Homo sapiens: one gene and its partner. The protein of the gene in region 2 interacts with the protein of the main gene of each other region in a pairwise test. Each region holds a gene or a part of one and is shown on either strand. Other genes may lie near its edges. The genes, in order: HDAC5 and RUNX3.

What was found.
Region 1: the proteins of RUNX3 (region 2) and HDAC5 interact in binary tests that used the Homo sapiens proteins (3 or more experiments, as listed by UniProt).

The regions. Positions count from the first base shown.
Region 1 is NC_000017.11:44,081,895-44,085,700, reverse strand, and holds part of HDAC5 (histone deacetylase 5), read left to right. Parts: intron 1-545; coding exon 546-679; intron 680-1,025; coding exon 1,026-1,146; intron 1,147-1,846; coding exon 1,847-1,896; intron 1,897-2,048; coding exon 2,049-2,156; intron 2,157-2,880; coding exon 2,881-2,936; intron 2,937-3,028; coding exon 3,029-3,116; intron 3,117-3,806. UniProt on the Homo sapiens protein: Responsible for the deacetylation of lysine residues on the N-terminal part of the core histones (H2A, H2B, H3 and H4).
Region 2 is NC_000001.11:24,909,777-24,913,582, forward strand, and holds part of RUNX3 (runt-related transcription factor 3), read right to left. Parts: intron 1-3,806. UniProt on the Homo sapiens protein: Forms the heterodimeric complex core-binding factor (CBF) with CBFB.

The DNA of each region.
Region 1 (3,806 bases), on a different chromosome or scaffold from region 2:
GTAAAACCCCGTCTCTACTAAAAATACAAAAATTAGCCAGGCGTGGTGGCACATGCCTGTAATCCCAGCTACTCGGGAGGCTGAGGCAGGAGAATTGCTTGAGCCCAGGAGGCAGAGGTTGCAGTGAGCCGAGATCGTGCCACTGGACCTGGCCGACAGAGCGAGACTCTGTCTCAAAAAAAAACAAAAGAAAAGCTAGGTGTGGTAGTGCCTATAGTCCCAGCTACTCAGAACGCTGAGGTGGGAGGATCGCTTGAGCCCAGGGTGGTGGGGGCAGTGGTTGAGGCTGCAGTGAGCCATGATAGCACCACTACACACTCCACTCCAGCCTGGGTGACAGAGTGAGACCCTGTTTCAAAGAAAAAAAAAAAAAAGCTGGAGAGGAGAGGGGGCAGGTTTGTGGCAGGGTGGCTGCAGTGGCCATGGGGAGGTGTTTGGACCTGGGGGTTGGAGACAGCTCCATGAGCCCTGCTGAGGATCATGGTAGCCAGGCTGGGATCCTGGGCCCAGAGCAGTGCTGGCTGACACATAGGTCTGTGGCCCAGGTGTGGTCTACGACACGTTCATGCTAAAGCACCAGTGCATGTGCGGGAACACACACGTGCACCCTGAGCATGCTGGCCGGATCCAGAGCATCTGGTCCCGGCTGCAGGAGACAGGCCTGCTTAGCAAGTGCGAGGTAAGGGAGCCCCTCCTTCTTCTGGCTCTCAACTTAAATCCAGCCTTTGTTTCCCTGTTAGATAAGCCTCTCTTCATGCTTCTTCCTCATCCTCTCTTCAGCCCCAGACTTCGGGGCCAGTTCTCCCACCACCCCGTTCCATCCCTTGCAGCCTGTTTTCCCCCATGGTCCCCAGCTGAGTGGGGGGGATCCGGGAGTAAGGTCATGACAGAGCCAGGATCTACTTTCTGAAAATATTTGGATCTCCTGAGGCCAGGAAGTGGCTCTGTGTGCCCTGGCTATGGGGCAGAGAGGCTCTGAGAGAGCTGTGCCTTTGTGTGACCCCTCTTACTGATCCTCCTGGCAGCGGATCCGAGGTCGCAAAGCCACGCTAGATGAGATCCAGACAGTGCACTCTGAATACCACACCCTGCTCTATGGGACCAGTCCCCTCAACCGGCAGAAGCTAGACAGCAAGAAGTTGCTCGGTGAGCTGGCACATGGGTGGGCGGGCAGGCATGTTCAGTGTCAGGGTGGGATGGGGGCTCTCAGGAAGACTGCCTGACCAGGCTAGGAGGGTTGTCCCCACGGGCATAGGGCATTGCTGCGGCAGAGGTGGCACAATTATCACGTCACACACCTCCAGAGGGCGCCACTAAAATAGAGCATGCTGTGGGGCGCGGTGCAGGAGGATGGAAGTGCTCGGTTGGGGGGACTGCTTTGTTCCCCTCCTCCACGGCTTATCATGCTCCTCTCTCCCTGCCACCTGCCCCCAGAGGTAAGACGTCCCCAAGGACAGAGGACTGACAGCTTCCAACTGGTGTGGGCTGCAGAGGCCTGTCTTGTACTTGGGTCTGAGCCCTCATTTTTGGTGGCTAAGCCTGTAGCCCTGTGGCAGTTGAGGTGCCTTTTTTTTTTTTGAGACAGTCTTGCTCTGTTGGCCAGGCTGGAGTACAGTGGTGCGATCTCAGCTCACTGCGACCTCTGTCTCCCCAGGCTCAAGCAACTCTCTTGCCTGAGCCTATTGAGTAGCTGGGTTTACAGGTGTGTGCCACCACGCCCAGCTAAGTTTTGTATTTTTAGTAGAGATGGGGTTTCATCATGTTGTCCAGGCTGGTCTCGAACTCCTGACCTCAGGTGATCCGCCCGAGGCCACTTCTAGAGTAGCTCTATTCCTCTTCCATGCAGGCCCCATCAGCCAGAAGATGTATGCTGTGCTGCCTTGTGGGGGCATCGGGGTGAGTAGGGCGTACAGCAGTGGGGGTGGGCGGGCGGCTCTCCTAGGTCTGTCTCTTCCCTGCCTACCACAGCCGCTGGCCCACTGTCCAGGTGCCCTCCCCTGTTCTTGCCCTGCAGGGGGCACACTGAAACCTGCTCTCCTGCCCTGCAGGTGGACAGTGACACCGTGTGGAATGAGATGCACTCCTCCAGTGCTGTGCGCATGGCAGTGGGCTGCCTGCTGGAGCTGGCCTTCAAGGTGGCTGCAGGAGAGCTCAAGGTGAGCGTGTGCTTGTGACCTCGGTGCCCCTTGGCATGGCCCTGCTCCTCAGAGGCAGAGGACAGGGGCAGCCTTGGGATCCTTTCAGTGAGGCACTGTCCTTTGCAAGCTCAACTCTCAGGCACCAGGGTGGGAAGGAGTTGCCAGCTGGGAATTCAGGTTATGAGGGACCAACAAAAAGACACTAATGCCCAGTGCTCTCGTGGGTGTCTCGAGGCAGAAATAGTGTCTGCCTGCTCAAGCCTCATGGTTGGCATTCAAAATGGTCCGTTGAGGCTGGGCACAGTGGCTCATACCTGTAATCTCAACACTTTGGGAGGCCGAGGTGGGCAGATAGCTTGAGCCCAGGAGTTCGAGACCAGCCTGGGCAACATAGTAAAACGCTGTCTCTACAAAAAATTAACCAGGTGTGGTGGCGTGTGCTTGTAGTCCTAGCTATTCAGGAGACTGAGGTGGAAGGATTGTCTGAGCCTGGGAGGCCAAGGTTGTAGTGAGCCATGATCGCGCCACTGCACTCCAGCCTGGGTGACAAAGCAAGACTCTGTCTCCAAAAAAACCCATAAAAAAACAAAGAAACCCCAACAAAATTGTGCATTAAACATATGGATCTGCTTTTCTGGTTTGTGTTCACTTCCCTGCCTGGCTTGTGCTTCTGTCCTGTGCTACCCCCTCCACGGCCTTCCTGCCTGGATCTTGCCCCTCACCTCTGCCTGCACCTCTTCAGAATGGATTTGCCATCATCCGGCCCCCAGGACACCACGCCGAGGAATCCACAGCCATGTGAGTGCCCTAGATTCTCTGCCCTCGCCCCTTCCTGTCTCTTGCAAACGTCATGCTGAGGCTGACCTCCTGCCCTTTTCTCCCCTCCTCAGGGGATTCTGCTTCTTCAACTCTGTAGCCATCACCGCAAAACTCCTACAGCAGAAGTTGAACGTGGGCAAGGTCCTCATCGTGGACTGGGTAGGCAGTGAGCTGGTGGGGCTGGGCAGGGGCGGGTAGAGCTAGGACCAGGGTCAGCCTTCAGGAAGTCTCCTCCCCCAGCCCCACCTTCAAGCACCCCAGTCGTCCTCATCCTCGGGTGCTGGGTGTGGGTGCAGAAGGAAGGGCGCTGGGGCTCCTGCCGGATGACTAACGTCACATTCCAACAGGGCTCCCTCCTCAACTATGAAAGACATTTAGCTCCTGTTCCATCTTGGCCCTCACGTTGCAGTTTCAAGCAACGAAGGGGATTTCCTACCTTGAACGGTAGTGACGCTGCCGCCATTGCTAGTAGCCGATATTTCCTCCCACCCCCTACAATTAGGAGCAGACTGTATACCAGGAACACAATGAGTACTTTATGGCCACCTCGAGTAGTAAGAACGAGGATGTCCATTTCTGTGAACAAAGGTGTTGTTGCGTGACTTACCCAAGGCCACTCAGCTGGGGATGTCGGCACTGGGTTTCAGACCAAGGCTTTTGGCCCCAGCACTCTGCTCTTGCTACCATGGGTGCTTCCCAAACCCTGCTCCTAATGGTGGAGGCAGAGGCACACACCACTCTCTGTGAGCTGGGGAAGTAGCCAGGACCAAGCCTCAGGAAGGACAAAATCTCTTGGAAGCCCAATTCTGGCTTAAAAATTCATGTAAATGTTGGATCCTCCTTCAGAAT
Region 2 (3,806 bases):
CCCTTGGAGGACTGTGCACTCCAGGGTTCGGCTGATCAACCCTAACACGGTCACGGCCATTCTACCTCACGTGACTTGGTGGGAGGCTGCCAGTCAGGCAGGGTGGCCAGGCCCTCTTTTACAAGTAAGAGAACTGCAACTGCGGAGAGGCGAGGAAGCTTGTTGGAGGCCACACGCCGAACAAGGGGTGGGATTTCCTGGACCTGGGACCCTTTAGAAAAGATGGAGGCTAGGCATGGTGGCTACGCCTGTAATCCCAGCGCTTTGGGAAGCCGAGGCGGGCGGATCACCTGAGTGAGGTCAGGAGTTTGAAACCAGCCTGACCAATATGGTGAAACCCCGTCTCTACTAAAAGTACAAAAATTAGCCGGGCGTGGTGGCGGGCGCCTATGATCCCAACTACTTGGGAGGCTGAGGCAGGAGAATCGCTTGAACCCGGGAGGCGGAGGTTGCAGTGAGCCAAGATCACACCACTGCACTCCAGCCTAGGTGACAGAGCAAGATTCCATCTCAAAAAAAAAAAAAAAAAAAAATGTGGGAGGGGGTAAGGGGGAGGAGAAGGTTTGCCTAAGGCCTTGGGTCTAGAATGACATGTGCGTTTTCTAGTTTGGCAGAGGGAGAAGAGGCAAGATGTAGGTGGGAGGTAAAACAGAACTCACTGCGCTTCTTGGGGCCTGAACAAGTGATTGCTGGGGACTCGAAAAGTGGGAAAAGCCTGTCGACCACTGTAGGGCATGAGGGGACAGAGCCCGAGGCCTCGCATGGGCCTGATTTCTGATTTTCAGAATGGGAACGCAATGGATTCTGGTACTTGTAGGCCCCCAAGCTCCCTACGCATCCCTGTTGGAAGCTCAAACAGGTATCTGGGAGCCTCAGAAAGAAAGCAGGGGGCCTGGGAGCCACAGGGGCTCAGCCAGTCACCAAGAACCAGGGAGCCCCACCTTCTCCTCCAATGAGGCCCCAGACCAGGAATCCATGGGACACTTGGTGGCAGGAATAAGACCATTTGGTCTCTGGCCAGGCCCCCACTGCTGCCTCCCAGGGCCCTTGGCAACAAAGGGGAAAACATGGGCTGGGGGCGAGTTTAGCTGGAGCTGGGGCTGCAAACTCAGATGCCCATGGGGATGGGGCAAGTCACGTGAACGAGGCAAGTGGGATGGGTGGGGCCTGGAGCGGATGGGGAGGAGATGCCTTGTGGAAAGCACCTGACTGCTACCCTGAGGAGGGCAGGCCCAGTACGGCCAGAGCTTCCAATTCCAGACCGAGTCCTCAGCCCTAACAGGCCTTGGAGGAAATGTTGTCCTTGCTCCTGAGGCCACTGGAAATGGCAGGGAGATGTGGATGAGCTGGGGGACAAGTGAGCAGAAGAATCTTAACAGGCATGAAGCCTGCCGGGTGGACGTGGGGACCACAGACTGATCCGACAACAGCCTGAGTGCAAAGGATCTGGGTGTTTTAGTCAGCCACAAGCTTGAAGGGAGCCAATAGGGCTGGTGCAAAACCTCAGGCCTTGTTACTTTCGTCACAGGAGAATAAAGTCCCCTGTTTCTGAGTCACACCATGTACAAAGAGTGTTTACAGTTACTCCTGCGGCCTGGCGGAAGAGGGCGGGGTTGACAGCCAGCCTGGGTTCGAGGACGGGTCCTGTCACTTGCAGTCTGGTGGCCTCACTCAAGTCACACTCCTTTCCCCCACCCCGAGCTGCGGTGTCCCCATCACACTGTCTTTGTGGGTTGAGGTGCTGGCCTAAGGTGTGGACACTTTCCAGTCACGTGGGTCACCACCATCATGACCATCGCTTTTATCTCTGCTCATGCCCAAAGGAAGCAGAACTATCATCCCCATGCTGGAGACCGGGGTGTGGAGGCCAGGATGCTGAAGTCGTGTGAGGAACACAGAGCCTGAGCAGCAAGGCAGGATTCACACCCGGATCCCCCGACTCCAAGCCCAGGGCTCTTTTCCTGACACTTTCCCTTTTGTTCCCATTGTTTAGACGGGGCCACCGAGGCTTCACCATGAGACCGACGCTGAGCGCCTGTTCCGGGACCCAGGCTGTGGGTCAGGTAATCTGACCCCGGAACCCACGCTCCCACCACATGCTCCCTTGCCCTCCGTAGGGCAGACTTCCCGGAGGAGGGGAGTCCAACAGCACTTCGGAAATAGCTTCCTTGTTACTGTGGAACGCTGGAGCCACTGCCAGGGAGGGGAGAGGGGAGCCAAGGCGGCCCCACGTGGCCAGGGCGCCAGAGAGTCTCAGAGCCACAGGGCCAGGGCTCTCACACTGGGAATAGGACAGAAGTTCCAGTGCCTGAGGAAAGAAGATGGTCTTCAGAAAAAGCCTCTTTCATTCGGTTACCCAGAGCAAGAGCTGCGTGGGGAGCTCTGGCTCTAACCCACTCCGTCACCTTGGGCCCAGTCCTGCTACGCCTCAGTTTCCCCTCTGCACAGTCTGCTCACTGAGGCCCCTTCCTTTTGAAAGTCCCTGATTTAAGGTAGCAAAGATCAGCCGCTGGTCAGAGGGGCCCCAGAAAGAAAAGAAGGCAGGGCTGCTGGCCCCAGGGCCCACCCACTACCACTTCTTCCTGCTGCTGCTGTTCCCAGTATTTCTTGAATATTCTCTGCCCCCCACTCTTCAGAGCCTCAGCTCAGGACAGCCTCTGCCAGCAATGCTTTCTGTCCTGTGAAGCCCAGTCCAGGAGCCCCTCCTCCAGGAAGCCCCCCTTCTCCCACAGTAGATCCCCATCACACCTCTGCAGGCTAGGGCTGTCCTTTAAAGCAGTCGCCAGCAGGAGTGGAAATCATCAAAACGGCAGCAGATGCTTGCTGGGTGCTTCCTCCACGGCAGCGTCTAAGCAGCTGACAAGCACCATCTTGTTTCGCCTGGCAGCATCCCCTTGAGTAATGTCTGCCACCATCCTATCATATGGGTGAAAAAACTGAGGCTCTGGACAGCCAGTGAGCTCAAGGTCAAGCAGAAGACACACAGCCACCTGCTCTCCCTAGAGCCTGTGAAAACACATCTATTGTGGCGGAAGAGGGCGGGGTTCACAGCCAGCCTGGGTTCGATACATCAATAGATGTATCGGGACTCCACAATAGATGTTAGGGCCCCGTCCAGCCCCAGGCCCAGAGCTGCTATCTGCAGGCCCAGGAGGATAGGACTTGGGAGAGGAAGATGAGAAGGTCTCAGTGGACTCCACCAGGGGCCCTTCCCTGCTCTGAAGCTCAGGGTTGAGAGTGCAATTTCCAATCATACCCTGCTCTAGACCACCAAGTCACTCTCTGCCTCTGGGCCACAGTTTCCACATCTGTAAAGTGGTTATCATACTGTCTAACCCCTGAGGGTGCCGATGAGCTGGAGGACAGGCCACATGCTTTTAAAAGCAGAGGACTGAGATGGCTGGGGAAAGCCCCGCGTTGGCCCTCAGGGCCTGTCCTGGCTGCTGTCAGCCTCCAGCTGCTGGGCTCAGATCAGACAGCTCCTCCAGCATGGCCTGGATTAGTGTCTATGACCCTCACTTATGGGAGGGCAGATCCCAGCCTGCCCCTCCCAAGGGCCCAGTGGCCCCAAGCTCATACCAGGCAGCTCTCACCCACCAGTGGTCACTGTCTTGGGCAAGCCACTCTTGCCTTCTGGGCCTCAGCTGTCTTATCTGCAAAATGGGGATCACACCTCTAACCCCCGAGGGTCAGGAAAGGTTTCAAGAATTACACAGCCCACCAGGCCTTGGCCTTTGAGGAAGGTGTTCTGGGTTCCCATTCTGACTTGGCCATCTGCTCCTAGGCAAACAGCTCCTCTCTGATGC